Linked DNA regions of Homo sapiens: region 1 is linked to region 2. The links come from fine-mapping of genetic effects on gene expression. A gene starts in region 2. The other region holds a variant in brackets. All regions are shown on one strand. Distances are from middle to middle.

Region 1 (5,000 bases), 54 kb before region 2:
TGTTTTGAACACCAAGATCAGACACAGCCCCCTACACAATGGTAAATACACACATTTGCATACACAGGAAATCAAAATACACAGCACAACAGGTCTCTGGGACATGAAAGCCGTCATCCTGGCTATGCAGAGCCCCCGCCCCTGGCAGTCAGCAGAGACCCTGTCCAGGCTGAAGGCCAGCACAGCATCTCCTTTACTGTCCTGTGCCACCTCTGCCCTCTCTGATCTTTCCCAAAGGCCAGTTCACACAGAGTCACCAGCAATAGGATACACAGAAACAGAAAAGGGCACGGCACATGACAACTTCGCGGTCATAACTCCCAGGAAAAGGAAATGCTCCCTGAACCCCCAGCCCTGAAATCCCCAGTAAGGAAACAGGACCCGCGGCATCTCACGGACCAGGCAAACATCCAGGCCTAACTGTGCCCTGGCTGTGCCTTGGGCCCAGGTGAGCCCATGAGAGCACTACGTCAGCAAATGGGGGGAGCAGTATTTCCCTTGGTTCTAAGAATGAACCACATACTTGACATGAATGAGAAGGTAACCAAAAAAAAAAAAAAAAAAAAAAAAAAAACAACAAGAAAAGGTAGAGTTTGGTTTTAAGAGTAAAATAACACAGAAGTTACCACTCAGGGCATTTGTCTGATTTCTTTTAAGGCACTTTGGAAAAGTCAGGATCTGCGGACAGAAAGAGAGGCTTTCATTCTTCTTATTTCCCACAACTCCCTCTCAATGCAGTCATTTCTAGTTTTAATAATATCCTTGGTATAGAGTGGGGAACTGACAGAGAAATACTTTTTGCATAGTCCAGCTGCTTCTGCAATGGAAAATAATTTTTAACCAATACAAAGGCTTCTGGAAAAAGAACCAAGTTAGCATCTGAGATGCGCAAAGCAGTAAAGGCACAGATAAGACTGGGGCCAGGCACCAGCTCAGCCTCCACACTGAGGGCTGGTACCCAGGAGGGCAGTGGTTTGGGGTCCGCCACGAGCACAAGGCTCAACCCTGGGATTAGGCAGCTGAGTCTTGGAACCTGAGCCCAGGCTGGACCTGGCAAAGGCGCTCAGTGGTAGGAGTGCCTTGTGTCATCTCATCCCAGGTGGCTCAATAGCTCCCAACAGAGGTGGGTTTGTGACAGACAGCCCTGTGGGTGGGAGCCTCAACTGGGGTGGGAGCACCTGTGAAAACCTGAGGTGGAACAGGAGGCTTTAGGCACCGAAGTTCTTGGGAGGGAGTTGGGGTGTGGGTTCGGCTGAACTTCTTTCTAGATCACTAATTAAAAGGCACATTCATGCTGGGGAATGGATAGTCTGTTTGACCCTGAGTGCCACAGTCAAGTTTTAGGGGACAGGCAAGAGGCAAAGGAACAAAAAGGGAGACGAAGGAAGGAATGAGAAAGGCAGGGGAAAAGAGGAAGGAGGAAGAACTGGTAACAAAGGGTGGGCCACGGAGTGTGGCTAGCAGAGCCTCTGAGGGAGGTGGCCCCCACCAGAACAGAGGCTCCCTCTGCCTGGGGAGGTGCAAAGGGCTGGTAAACAACCTGACTGCTGTTATTTACAACCCCCCAGCCTAGGGGCCTGAGGGGTCAGTCTAAGGAGGCTGAGGCTCCCTCCGCCCTGCCCACCTGGGGAGGGTTGGGGAAGTGGAGAGTTCTGCACAGTAGGTGCAGAGGCTTCTGTCTCCCAGGTATCCTCCCCGAGGTCTGGCAGGATAATGCTGACCGGGAGGCCTTACCTGCCAAGGGGCCAGAGGGTGATTTTGCTCTTGAGAAAACCTGGCCTGCCAGCTAAATCATAGGCCTATTTGTGGCCACTACAGCATATATTTATTTTTCTCCCTAAAAAATGCTCAATACCCCTCCCCATATTTAAAACACCACAATAAAAATACATAGGAAATTCAAGTTTACATAGCATGCCAAGAAAAATAAATTGTCATGACTTAACATTAAACAGCTATGCAAATTTGGATCAACACAAAATCAAGCTAGATCATAATTAGAACTCGATCTGTTCTTTCTTTAAAATACTACAAACTACTATTTAAAAAAAAACACAACAACTTTACATTCAGAAATCAGACAATCTGGAGATAGGCCACTGAATGCGAGAAACCCAAGGCTTTTGCTCTGATGCTAGAGTTGCCCTGGAATCCACACACATAGGACAAAAGGTCCAGGGCTCAAGTTTTAAAATCCTTTTGCTAAGAAAAGACATATGCACAGTGATTGCAGTGGTTGCATACCACTGAAAGAAGGGGGTGGGGGGAGGACGTAACATTAAGAATGGTTGAAATTTTGTGTTTTTCTGTTAAATTACAACTACCAAAAAGATCACACCAATCCAATTTTAGCAGCACTCTCC[G/A]AATTTTCACGAATAAGAAAACCATAATTTAAAGAAAAATTCTAACCTATTTCACGACAATTTAGCAATTCTATCACCGGGAATGTGTTCCACGGCCACCAAATTTTGGGATGTGTACAGTTCTGACTCTGGGGTGACACTGCGAACACATCAAGAAACCCGCAAAGGCATAAACACCTTGCAGAGCTAAGAATTCACATGCCGAGCCAAGTTGGGGGCAAAATATCCCACTCGTCCTGGTCATCTGGAAAGCCATCTGAATGATGAGCGAAGGGGACCTGTCACTCAGACTGGTAAAAATGAGAGGGACCAGCCCAGCAGATTGGCAGAGACACACAGCAGAGGTCCCTGGCTAATTTCAGGTCTCTTATCCGTGTACCAAAACGCTAGCTCGGTGTCCCGATGTCCACTGTGATTTGGGTATACAATGGGTATCTCTGTACATCCAGCACCTGGTAGGTGAGTGAGTTCAAACCATCAGAGAGCATTGTCTCCTTTGTGTGTGCAATTCGGTCAAACCTACAAGGAAAAGAGCACAAGGAGATTGTCTTAAAACAAAAATCTTAAGAAGAAATCATCACACGTACTTCCTCCTCCCTCTCCACTGTAACCTGACCACCTCAATTTCCCTCTAGGCCCAGAGCCTCGGACCTGCAGCCTACCTCATCCTAAAGGGGGAAGGAGTATGAATAAACAAAGAATGCACCTCTGAGGATTGGGTTCATTTTTCTTGTCTCTTGAGTGGCGGATCATGCGACACCTCCCGACCACAGCATTTGGGCGAGATATAGACATGCCTCTAAAAACTAATCTGCAAAGAGTAAAGGGAAAGTCATTATCACAGAGCTGCCATACACTTGGCCTGAGAGCCCCGGCTGCAAGACTGTTGCTCCATCCACCATCACCCTTGCTGTTCTCACTCAGCCCACAACCCAGCATCATGCCAGAACCCAGCCCAGCATGACCCTGGTTAAAACTCACATTCCGACTCCATGTCCTTTTACAACTGGTTCTGCGGTTTGTGGTGTTGACTACCATGTGCCAGACACTGGGGCCGTGTGCCCCACAGAATATACAGTGTGAATGCTTCAAACATAGGGCCTTTAGGGCCAGGATGGAGGTGAGAAGAGGAAGATGAGGTTGGAGACACAGAGGAAGAAGCATAGAGTTTGTAACCTCTGCTGGAGCAAGCCTAGGCAGAGCCCAGTTGAGGATGAACAGGTATCTGCCATAGCATTTTGGGCAGCCAGGATGGCACAGGCAAAGGCATGGAAGTGAGAGCAAGCCTAGTGCCCTCAGGGAGCAACGTAAGCTCCTGGGGACTGGTGACAAGGGTCTGGGGTAGGACGTGGCAGGTGATGGGCTGAAAAGGGCCAGGCTAAGTCACAGAGGCCTTCTCAGAGCATCCCACAAACGGTTGCCAGTATCTGAAAGGGGCCTAATATACAGTATTTCCAAAATGCTTTTAGCCATGGGGAAGTCTCTGGAAAGTAGTATACGAATGGAGGGCTTCAGAACATGTGGGAAAAGGCAGAAAAAAACAAATGGAGGGCTGAGAACAAGACTAGAGGCAGCCAGAACAGGGTGGAGGATTCTGTGTTGGTCCAAGGAAAAGGAATGAGGACCAAAATGAAAGCCTGGAGAGCAGGACAGCAAAGTTAGTTAAGAGGCAGAACTGGCTGATCCCAGACCACTTAAACATTCCTGGCCTTGCCTGGCACACAGTAAGTGGTGCATAGAAAGTGTTAGGTCCTTTATCTTTCAAGAAAGTTGCTCCACACACCACCCATCCTTCTAGTGCCACTGCGTTAGCATGGGACTAGATGCCTGCGGATGCTCCCTCCCTCCCCAGCTGTTCTGACCATTCAGACCTGTGGTATCCTGTCGGCCCTGCACACTGTCATATCAGTCCAGAGTGTCTGCCCAGGAGTGCCTCTGTGGAAGCAGGCTTGCTTCTGTCTGGACCCTATGTCCAGGTTTTCAGTGTCCTGGGCCTGCCTGGCACAGTGCTCTGTATGCAGCAGATGTTCAATGTGCACACACTTGATACCCCATCTACATACTAAAACTGGAGTTTCCTTCAAGGCTTATATTGAAGACGTGGGTCTCTGTTAAGTTTGCACACAATGGTAACTTGAATGACTTGGGTGTTGCTCTGACAGACACCTTCTGTTAACTGGTACTGCAATTTAGAAAGGCTGCACCAGGGTGTATTCTGATATTAAACTCAGTAATGAGCTCAGACTGGCTCCTGGAGGGAGAAGGTGCTCATCGGTGGCTGGTGGGGTTGAAGCCTCTACAGCCAGAGGACTGAGCAGAATGTTCTTTCAAATGCTACTGATAGATGTTTTTTACCACTGTAAATGACAACCCACATCATAATGATTTACCAGCTTAAAAAGAGCCCCAGGATGTGGATGGGACAGAACTGACCAGGCCATAATGGTTGCTGGGGCTGGATAGGTCCTCAAAGGTTTATTATACTACAGTATCTCTTTTGTATATGTGAAAATACTCCAAAATAAAAATATAACACAAAGCTTCTGTGAAGACAGTTAGGATTCTGCTCAAGGAAACTTGTTTCACAGTGAAAGGGGACCATAATGAAAGGAGGGATTTTTACAAAGGACATTGGTT
Region 2 (5,416 bases):
TCTCTCCTCGTCCTCCAAAATGTTCTTTCTCAGGAAGTCCTTTCAAGTAGCCAATTATAGTCCATTTAGAAACACCAGTAACTGGTGACAAGCCGATCACTAGCAACACCATTACAAAACAAAACTAAGCAGAGGTATGGTCACGACCTTGTCTCTTACGCTTCTGAGAGAAGATGTGATACTCAAATACCAATGTAATCAACTTTGCGGTACTTTTGTTTAACTTGCTAATTATTTTTTCTTTCTGTGCAATATCCAGGCAACAACTAAAAACAAAAGCAAAAAACCTGGCCTTTTTCTGGCCTGGAGACTCAGTCTCTCTCCCCCTTCACTCTGCTGTGCAGAGCCATTTCTGTGGGAGTCTGAAAAAATGAAACTTTTTAAAGATCCTAAGCAAATATTATTACTATATTATTATTATACGGTGTATTGAGTGCCCGTATTTTTTTTTTTTTTTTTTTTTTTAGACAGTCTTGCTTCGTCGCCCAGGCTGGAGTGTACTGGCACAATCTTGACTCACTGCAACCTCTGCCTCCCAGGTTCAAGCAATTCTCCTGCCTCGGCCTCCTGAGTAGCTGCGATGCCACCACCCCTGGCTAACTTTTTTGTATTTTTGTAGAGATGGGATGGTGTTTCACCATATTGGCCAGGCTGGTCTCAAACTCCTAACCTCAAGTGATCCACTCCCCTCAGCCTCCCAAAGTGCTAGGATTACAGGCGTGAGCCACCATGCCCAGCCTGAGTGCCTGTATTTAATGTACACGATCTCATTTAGTCTTAAAAAAACCCCTGTAAGGTAATCATCGACAACCACATTTTACACAAGGAAGAGATTTTGAGAAACTCGATAGCATGTCTCAAGTCAGACACTTAGCAGCAAGGCAGAGTCCATTTCATTTTATGGGACTAGTCTGCTTCCCAGAATAATCATCAAATGCAAAGGAATTTAATTATCTGCTTAAAAAAACAAGCCCCCATTATTACCACAGTTCACGTCTGACCAATTCCAAGATGTTCTTCCCAAACTTGATATGAACACATTGACGCAATTACTGGCGAAATTGAGCAAGAGTATGTAGTAGCCAGGGCTCTGTGGGAAAGTGACAGAAAACTCCTATTGGCAGGATGTCATCCTGCCTGCCAGGGCCCCTCACTTACAACAATTATCTAAAACCTAGCATTAGAAATGAGAAACCACCTGTGTGGTAACCCTGGAAGCAACCTGTGGTTGCCTTGGGCCTGTGGGCCTGTAGGTTACAGGTCAAAGAGAAGTCCAGACTAGGCTCAGCCAGCTGCTATGAGGAATGCAAACTCACCTACTCAAGCTCTCTGCCTATGCTGAAACAGGCTAGAGGTCAGAGTTCAGATCATCTGGGCAAGATAATTGAGACTCAGGCTGCTACCGGAAGTACCAGAAATGGGCAACGTGGTGTTGACTGGTTATATTTTAGCCCTCTAACACCCAGAGTACACAAGCTCTCTGCCCCTGGGAGAGATCCCTGCTCACCTAGGTTTTGGGTACCCATACCAGGAGGAGGCTAGGGGGAAGGGCTCTCGGTCACGATCCACACAGAGGAAGAAATGAACACACAGTGACAATTTACTGAGGGCTTACCCTCATTAATTAAGCCCTTATTTACCATTGTTCACAATATCTTCCAAAACAACCCCTTGAAAGGGTGACCATTTATTATCCCAGAAGAGAAATATGAGGTTCAGAGAGAAGTCACTTGGCCCAAACGATCAGGAGAAAAACCCACTCAGGAGAGTGGCTCTATGGCAAGACACGTGAACCGAGAGGTCAGTCTCCTTCCCCACCGGGAGCCTCACGTCAGTCCCCAAAAGGGAGTGGATTACTCGAGGTCCCTACCAGAGTTCTCAGTGCAAGGCTGCTCGAAGCCCTAAGCAGACCCAAACTCCAAAACTTCCTGAGCCTCGGGCCACAGCAGGGAAGTCTCCAAGGCCTTCTCTGGTTCTGGGGCTAGAGGGGCCTCGGGACTTCCCTGTGCGGTCCCGGCCCCACGCCTCCAACAGGACTCCCCAGGGACCCACCTCGCAAACCTTCTCTCCCATCCAGTCCCAAGCCTCTGTCTGGGATTTAAAACTCTGATCCAGAAGAGGGAGGCTGGCTGTCGTAGAAGAGCCAGCCTGAGGGAATGTCTGGGGGACCCTGTCGGGGAAATCCGGGGGGGTCCCAATCCTCCGACTGGCGCCGACCCGAGTCCTTACCAAGCAGCGGGGACTCCTCAGGGCAGGCGGGCAGCGACAGTGCGGTGGTGTGGGGCACTGGGACCGAGGTCAAGTTGCTAGCGGGGCCAGGGCCAGAATCCACGACTGGGCTGGAGTCGCCACCCGGGCGCGGCTGGGAGGAGGCGCCTAGAGGAGGCGGCGGCCGGGCCCCTCCGGTCCGGAGCTCCCCGGAGGACTGCCCGATGGCGGCGGCACTGTTCGAGCCGCCCTGCAGCGGTGTGGAGACTCCGACCAGTTGGGGCAGGCGGCTCAGGTCGCGGCCAGCCAGGTAGTAAACGAGGGTGACGCCAAGGTGCAGAGCGCAGACGGCCACGAGCAGGCGGCAGGCCCGCTGTAGGGACGCGCCTGGCATCGCGGCGCTGCCGCTCAGGAGCGGCTCCCGAAGCCTCATCTTCCCGCCGCCGCTTTAAGAAGGGTGTGGGCTACAGGAGGGGAGGCGACCCGCCCGCGGGCCGCCCGCCAGGCGCTGCCCCACAGCGGCGACTAGGGGAGGGCCCGGAGCGGGGGCGGGCGAGCGGCTGAGAGCTGAGACTCCTCCAGCCAGCCAGACCTGGGAGCGGCGAGAAGCCGCCCGAGGCGCCGGCGGAGAGGGGAGGGGCGGGGCCCCGGCGAAGGCGGGGGCGGGGCCGGGCGCGGGGTTTTCTGGACGAGGGCGGGAAGGCGGGGCAGCCCGTGGCGGGATGGGCGCGCTGGGCGGGGCCTCGGGAGGGTGGGCAGCGGGCGGGGCGCCGTCGTGGGGTCCCCGGAGTATGACTGCAGCTCCGACGCTTGGCCGCGCACCGCCCTCTTCCTCCCGAGCCTTTGCGGCGGAGCTTCGGTCGCGTTGAGCCGCGCCTCCTCTTCCTCCTCCACGCTGCCCTCGACAGGCCGCGCCACTTCCTGGGGTGCGAAGGGACTCGGGTGCGAGCCTGGGCCTGCAGCGCGGCGGCGGAGAGAACGGAGAGGACAGCTGGCGGGTGGTTATCTGGAGTGGTTTGGGGCCGCGGCGGCGTTCTGGCCAGTGGGCCTTGGTGGGCTAGGAAGAGAGGCAGAAAAAGGTTACCCAGGAAACGGGCTTCGACGCCGGGCGAGGAGTGGCACGTTCGAAACCCCCTCCCTAACTCAGCCCGGCTGGACCCCGCTGCTTAACGGGGGGTCCTGCGGCAAAGAAAGTGGACGGGTTGCCACTTCTGTGCCTCCCCATCAGGTAGCCTGGGCTATAAGGGGCTCTCAGACCAGCTTGGTTCCAGATGTGTGTGTGGCGGGAGTCCTGTATACTTTGAAGAGGAGAGCAGCAAGAAGCCTCTAACTCCCAGGCCAGCGTGCAGGAGATCAGCCGGCGTTACAGTCTACACTGGGCTACCCACTGTCCCATGAAGTAGCAGTTCTCCCCATGTCGTAGAGTGGGGCCCCGGCAGATTAAGAAACTTTCCTAAGAGCCCACAGCTGGCAAGAGGCAGAATTCTGGCTCCGAAACCCATGTTTTCTACAGGTTTACCCTTTGTTGATTTGCAAGTAAGGGCTGAAGGCTGTGTGGGTGAGAGACTTAGGCACTGAAGCCACTTGACCTCGATTTGACCCAGAGGCCTCAGGCCCTGAGTGAGCAGAGACACCTCACCCCAGAGAAAGACTCATGGAGGTGCTGTCAGTAATGTGGATAGGGAAGTTGAGGGCTCTGGCAGCCAACCATCAGGGAATAACAGTAGCTACCTTATTTTGAGAGTTTGCTGTGTGCCAGTACTATCTGCCATGAAGTAGGTGGTGTTACGGTGTCCATTTCACAGATGAGAAAATAAGGCTTATGAGTTGACACTTTGGTTGTGATCATACAGAATCAACTTTCCTCACTTGACTTCCTGGACACCAGGTCCTTCTGATCTTCCTCACTTCACTGGCCATTTCTGTCTCCTCTCTGGACTTCTTCCCCAGTTGCTGAAGGCCCCAGCCATAGTCCATGATGTTCTTTTGTGTCTACACTTACTGCCTCGGAATGATTTATAATATCCAAATGCTGATCACTGATTTGTCTCCAGCCCAGATCTCTTCCCTGACCTCCAGATTCAACTGCTTATTTTACTGGCATCTCAAACACAATACATCTTGCCCTCAGCAACCTACTCCTTACACACCACTCCCGTTCTTACCTCCCTCAGAGAGTGATACTATTGTTTATTCAGTTCCCCAGAATCTAAAAGGTGTCCTTGATGTGCTTCTCTTGCTCTCAATGCCATTTGCAAGCCCTCAGCCAGCTTTGTCAGTGCTACCTTCAAAACATCAAAATTCACCACCAGCCAACTCTGATGTAACCATCCTCGATCAAGCCACCATCATCTTGCCCTGGGTTATATGGCAGCTACTAATTGGTCACCCTGCTTCCACCTCCTCCATTCCTCCTCCCTAGTCTGTTTTCCACAGAGCATCCAGGAAATCTTTGTAAGCATAAATCAGATCATGCCATTTTGTTCAGAACCAAATCCACAGAAACCCTGTTCAATCTGGTTCCTATTTCCCTCCCCACCCACATCTGTCACTCTACCATGCTGGACCTGCCTTAGCCACACTAGCCTGATAGCTATTCCTTGAACTTGCCATATTTCTTCCTGCCTCAGGGCCTTTGTACTTGCTGTTCATTTAGCCTGAAACACTTGTCCCCAATATTTCATTCAATTCAGGTCTCTTAAATGTCACCTTATGACAGAGACCTTTTCAGACTACCTTATGCAGAATGGCCTCCTGCCCAAATCTGCTTAAACTGCTTGAATTTTTTTTTTTTTTTTTTTGAGACAAAGTCTTGCTTTTGTCCCCCAGGTTGGAGTGCAATGGTGCAATCTCACCTCACTGCAACCTCTGCCTCCCGGGTTCAAGCGATTCTCCTGCCTCAGCCTCTTGAGTAGCTGGGATTACAGGTGCCTGCCATCACGCCGGGCTAATTTTTTGTGTTTTTAGTAGAGACGGATTTCACCATGTTGGCCAGGCTGGTTTCAAACTCCTGACCTCAGGTGATCCGCCCGCCTCGGCCTCCCAAAGTGCTGGGATTACAGGCGTGAGCCACCGCGCCCGGCCTTAACCTGCTTGATTTTTTTCAGAGTGGATATCAACTACCCAACATTATGCATTTATTTTCTGTTGTCTTGCCTCCCTCATTAGAAAATCAGCTTCATGAGAACAGGAAATTTCTCTCTTGTTC

The links. PIP is the estimated chance that this variant, and not a neighbour inherited with it, causes the effect.
Region 1: its variant is fine-mapped to the expression of B4GALT1 in aorta (GTEx, PIP 0.95).

The regions. Positions count from the first base shown.
Region 1 is chr9:33,110,705-33,115,704 of GRCh38, forward strand. B4GALT1 (beta-1,4-galactosyltransferase 1) reads right to left here. Exons shown (of 6, transcript NM_001497.4): 5 at 3,070-3,174; 6 at 1-2,882. The coding sequence ends at 2,750. Among named protein-coding and RNA genes, the nearest start is that of MIR12117, 4.5 kb to the left of the region's middle. RefSeq lists an enhancer at 887-1,486. The variant G/A (reference allele first, on the strand shown) is at 2,364.
Region 2 is chr9:33,164,529-33,169,944 of GRCh38, forward strand. B4GALT1 (beta-1,4-galactosyltransferase 1) reads right to left here and starts at 2,808. Exons shown (of 6, transcript NM_001497.4): 1 at 2,230-2,808. The coding sequence starts at 2,641. B4GALT1-AS1 (B4GALT1 antisense RNA 1) reads left to right here and starts at 2,420. Exons shown (of 3, transcript NR_108110.1): 1 at 2,420-2,518. RefSeq lists silencers at 2,560-2,833, 2,592-2,991 and enhancers at 2,659-3,224, 3,142-3,241, 3,225-3,789, 3,312-3,391.